Regions from separate parts of the Homo sapiens genome. Here region 2 is linked to region 1. A link means that fine-mapping ties the variant in region 1 to the expression of a gene that starts in the linked region. Tissue or cell type: ovary. Region 1 holds a variant in brackets; the other region holds the start of a gene. All regions are shown on one strand. Distances are between the middles of the regions.

Region 1 (2,762 bases):
AACTCAAAAGAAAAGAAAAGAGAAAAAAGAAAAGAAAGAAAGAAAGAGAAGAAAAGAACCATTATACCATGTGAATCCTGCACTGGCAATCAAGGTATCCAGCTTTTCTCATCAGAACTGACTAGACGGCTGGTGTGATCCATAGAGAGGAAGGAAGGGCAGTGTGGTGCAGTGGCCCACCTGAGAGCCACACGAGGCAGGCGAGTCCCCATCCCCCAGTCAAGGGAGGTGATGAGTGAGCGTGCTACCCGGCAGGGTAAACCATGCTTTTTCCACGGAACTGTGCAACCCACGGATCAGAAGATCCCACTTGCAAACCCACCCCACCAGGGCCTAGGGTCCCAATCCCGGACCTGCACAGATTCTCAACAGCCTCTCAGCTAGAATCTGCTTAAGGTTGGCAAGTTCCTGGGGAAAGGGGCAACCAGCACCAAAGCTGCTGCTGCCTATCTAAGCCATTTGAGCTCCTTAGGAGAGGGACAGCAACCTGCACTGGGACTCATAACTGCCTAATATGCTAAGCTTCCTGGGCTCCGTCTCTGTAGCTCCAGGCCAAGCTTTTCCCCTGCTGGAGCCAGGAAGGCTGGACGGCTTGATCCCAAAAGGTGTCCTCCACAGCCCAACACACCAGATATGGGAAACTGCAGCCAGAGCGCCTCTTCAGGCCTGACCCTGACCCATCCTTCCTCACTGGGTGGGGCCTCCCTGCAGGAACTCTAACAACTCCAGCCAGAGGCTCAGGGACAGAACCCCAATCTCCCTGGGCCTGAGCCCCTAGGGGGAACGGTGGCTGCAGTCTCTGCAGACTAGCAGACTTAGCCTTTCCTCCTGGTGTGTTTGAGGAATCCAGGCAGCACAGACAAGTGGGTTACCCCCCAGCAAAGCACACTCCCTCCACCAAGGACAGTCAAAGTGCTTGTTAAACTGGTCCTGTTTCCCATGCCACCCACCTGGGTGAGACCCTCCAACAGGGGTTGTCAGACACCCTACACAGGAGTGATCCTACTGGCATCAGGTTGGTGCCTTTTGAGGTCAGAGATCCCAGAAGAAGGAACAGGCACCCACCCATCTTTGCTGTTCTCCAGCCTCCTTGAGTGACATCTCCAGGTGCAGGAGGTAACCAGAT[G/A]AATAGGGCCTGAAGTGAACCCCCAGCAAATTGCAGAAGAGGGACCTGACCATTGAAAGAAAAACAAACAGAAAGCAACAACAACACCATCAACAACAAAAAAAAGTCCCCACCAAAACCCCATCCAAGGGTCAGCAGCCTCAAAGATCAAAACTAGACAAACTCATGAAGAATAAATGAAAAAATGCTGAAAACCCATAAAGCCAGAGTGCCTCTTCTCCTCCAAATGATCACAACACCTCTCCAGCAATGGCACAAAACTGGACAGAGGATGAGATGGATGAATTGACAGAAGTAGGCTTCAGAAGATAGGTAATGAGAAACTACACTGAGCTAAAGGAGTATGTTCTAATCCAATGCAAAGAAGCTAAAAACCTTGATAAAGGTTAGAGGAAGTGCTAACTAGAATAACCAGTTTAGACAGAAACATATATGACCTGATGGAGATGGAAAACACAGAACGAAAACTTCGTGAAGCATACACAAGTATCAACAGCTGAATTGACTGAGTGGAAGAAAAGATATCAGAGTTTGAAGACCACCTTGCTGAAAGAAGGGATGCAGACAAGAATAGAGAAAAAAGAATAAAAGGGAATGAAGAAATCCTCCAAGAAATATGGGACTACATAAAAGGACCAAATCTATGATTGATTGGAGTACCTGAAGGAAAGGGGGAGAATGGAAACAAGCTGGGAAACACACTTCAGGATATTATCCAGGAGAACTTCCCCAACCTAGCAAGACAGGCCAACATGCAAATTTAGGAAATACAGAGAACATCACTAAGATATTCCACAAGAATATCAACCCCAAGACACATAATCATCAGATTCTCCAAGGTCAAAATGAATAAAAAAATGTTAAGGGCAGCCAGAGAGAAAGGCCAGGTCACCTACAAAGGGAAGCCCATCAGACTAATAGTGGACCTCTCAGCAGAAACCCTACAAGCCAAAGACATTGGGGGCTGATATTCAACATTCTTAAAGAAAAGAATTTTCAACCCAGAATTTCATATCCAGCAAAACCAAGCTTCATAAGTGAAGGAGAAATAGAATCCTTTCCAGACAAAAAAATGATGGGGATTTCATCACCATTAGGCCTGCCTCACAAGAGAGTTCCTGAAGGAAGCACTAAATATGGAAAAGAAAAACTGGTACCAGCCCCTACAAAAGCACATCAAAACATAAAGACCAATGATATGATGAAGAAACTGCATCAACTAGTGTGCAAAATAACCAGATAGCATCATGATGACAGGATCAAATTCACACATAACAATACTAACCTTAAATGTAAATGGACTAAATGTCCCAATTAAAAGATAGAGACAGGAAGGGGAACATTACACACCAGGGACTGCTGTGGGGTCGGGGGGAGGCAGGAGGGATAGCATTAGGAGATATACCTAATGCTAAATGACAAGTTAATGGGTGCAGCACACCAACATGACACATGTATACATATGTAACAAACCTGCACGTTGTGCACATGTACCCTAAAACTTAAAGTATAATAATAATAAAATTAAAAAAAAAAGATAGAGACAGACTGGCAAATTGGATAAAGAGTCAAGACCCATCAGTGTGTTGTATTCAGGAGACCCATCTCACATGCAAAGACACACATAGGCTCAAAA
Region 2 (2,762 bases), 86 kb after region 1:
TCCCTGCTTTCATTGACCCAGATTGCCCTCCGCCAAAGAGAGAGGCCAGTGGCTGCCCATCAGAGCCAGGACCCATGTTGCAGAGGCCACTGCCTGTGGTGCTCAAGAGTATTAGTCACTGAGTATTTACCTTCTGAAAGCTCCTTCTCTCTACCTCTGCCCACCTTTCACTGCCATCTCAGACTGGATAAAAGGAGTGATCTTTGTATTTGGCTGGTACAGTTAACCCTATCCCCATCTCATTAAACTGTTCTTCCCTGGTTTCTGCCTGATCATGAGCCCAGTTACCCTGTGTGTATGAAGAGGGAGCAGTATGGAGGAATCCTCACTTTCTGCTCTGGATACAGAAGCCATGGATGGAGGGAGGACACATTGCAGTTGTGACTGGAATTCAGCATCTCACGTCTCTTTGTGCCCTAAAGCCCAGGGACCACTCCTCTTCTCTCACTGCTTCCCTCACCCATCACATGGCAGAGGGTAGCTGGCATGCCTTTTGACAGGAGCCCAGATCTGACATATTTTCAGCATAGTGGATCTTAGGGAGTGAATGTGTAGTTCATAGAGGGGACATACCACTAGCCAACCTCATAGAACTTGCTCAGACCAGCAGGCTTGATCCGGGGCTGTAGGTCCCCCAGCAGGGACAGCAAAGGGATGCTGGATTTGTATGAAACACATGTCTTAGGTCTCTTTCCCTCTTTACGACAACATACTGCCTGTTTCTGTGGCACTGTTCACAGATCACTGACTTTACCCGCTCCCCACCCCACCTCCAGCACAAATACCCCATTTTCCACAGTCTGTGTGTCATTCTTTTCCTCTGGGCCACAGGGGAGCCTCCTTAGGGTGGCACACAGCCCTCCACTAGCTAACCAATCTCCTCTCCAGAGCCCGTCAGGAGACTCTCTTTTCAGATGAGGTATCCCTCCTCCATCTGAAGCCATATCCCCAGTGAATATGTCCTGCTTTCTTCCTCCTGTCGCTGCCACACGCATGCTCTCGACCACCAGGAAGACCTGGAGGCAGGCAGGGGCACAGGGAGGGATTTTCTGGCAAAGTCTGCACAAATATACCTGGTCTGAAAGAGGAACACTGATGCCATGGTATGGCGGGCCTCTCTGCTCCCCAGATGTGCTAGTCCCCAGAGGCTGTCAGAGCAGTCCTTTGCTGGAACTTCCTCTGCACTTGCCAGCCAAGAGTGGACCAAATGCAGCCTTTGACTCCCCAACCTCATACATCCATCAACACTCTGCAGAAGCCTACCCTAAGGGCTTGTTGCAACCCCAGCCCATACCCCTCTTCTTTCCTTCATTCTTTCCAGATTGTACTGAAGTCCATCCTAGGCAGCCGCCTCCTACTTTCTTCTCTGCTCACCGCCTTCAGGCCTTGCTCTCCACTCCTGGCTCACACACAGACGGTTGCTTACCTGGGAAATGCAGACAGCAGTGTGGGGCCTCTGCCCTGGCTTCTGTGACACGTGGGCTCTCAGCAACAGGAACCAGTTAGGTACAAATCAGCAGAGATGGTGTCTCTGTCTCTCACGCTTTGTGTCCAGTCCAGCGGCTGCAGAGAGAGCCTCTGGAGGTGGGGCCAGTGTAATACACTCAACCTTCCTGCCTGCATCCAGAGAGCAGCCTGGGAAATAGAGTGGGGCTGCCCTCTCTCACTGCCTGAACCGATCCTCTGGCTCCCTCTGCTCCTGCCTCCCCTCCCTGCCAAAGCCAGCCTTCCTCCTTCCCTCCTCTCAGTCTTCCTGCAGGTGGCCCTATGCCTCTTGTTCACTTTCACTCCTTCCTTCCACAGAGCAGTCCATCCTTCACTTTAGCCCTGGTATGCCCATGGGCCACATGTCACTTGTGAGCTTCCTGGGTAGCATGCTTTTTCCCTCCTGGAAGGCAGAACAGAGTATTTGGCCTATATGCCCACCTCCCTATTCTAGTACCCACCTTTTGCAGGACTGTGAGTTGCAGAACTGTGAGGGGTTGGGATTCCCAGAATTCTTTGTAGCAGCCCATTCATTGGCTCAAAGATGCCCACAGCCTTTTAACTGGGAGTAGGGGTGCAGGGAGATGGTTTTCTGTCTTATGCATACAGATGCCAGGCCTGTCTGGGGTCTCTTTCCACTTTCAGCATTGATTCCCATGCAGGTTCATTTTGAAGAGAAGGATTGGCCCAAGGTAGAAGACTCAGTACATTCAGAATTTTTACCCACTCAAGTCTAATGTGCATTTATTAGGATGAACATTCAGGGCATTAAAATAGGTGATGGAAGTGTGGTTCCTGTGATGTCACTAGGTGGTCACAAAGTATACTGATTGACAGCACGGTCTGGGTCTGGGTTTGAATCTTACTACTTACTAGCTGTGTGATCTTGGGCAAGTTATTTAACCTCTGTGTGCCTTAGTGTCTCATCTGCAAAACAGGGACCAGGATACTATTGCCATCATGGAAGTTTGGGGAGTATTAAATGAGATAATGCATGTAAGGAGCTTAGTTCGGTGTTTGGAACATAGCAAGTACCCAAAAACGTTAGCTGCTTTCATTGTTATTATTGACGATTTTTAAAAATTTTAAGTTCCGGGATACATGTGCAGGATATGCAGGTTTGTTACATAGGTAAACATGTGCCATGCTGGTTTGCTGCACCTATCAACCCTTCCTTCACCTAGGTATTAAGCCCGGCATGCATTAGCTATTTTTCCTGATGCTCTCTCCACCCCGCACTCCCCCAACTGGCCCCAATATGTGTTGTTCCCCTCCCT

Which allele goes with the higher level. Alleles are on the strand shown, and positions count from the first base shown. SD is a standard deviation of normalised expression in the study named.
As copies of A replace G in region 1, the expression in ovary of the gene that starts at base 1,571 in region 2 goes up (large effect, 1.4 SD a copy in GTEx).

What was found. PIP is the estimated chance that this variant, and not a neighbour inherited with it, causes the effect.
Region 2: it holds the start of ZNF648, and the variant in region 1 is fine-mapped to the expression of ZNF648 in ovary (GTEx, PIP above 0.99).

Annotation. Positions count from the first base shown.
Region 1 is chr1:181,974,552-181,977,313 of GRCh38, forward strand. No RefSeq gene overlaps it. Among named protein-coding and RNA genes, the nearest start is that of ZNF648, 86 kb to the right of the region's middle. The variant G/A (reference allele first, on the strand shown) is at 1,127.
Region 2 is chr1:182,060,142-182,062,903 of GRCh38, forward strand. It overlaps ZNF648 (zinc finger protein 648), which reads right to left and starts at 1,571. Exons shown (of 2, transcript NM_001009992.1): 1 at 1,427-1,571.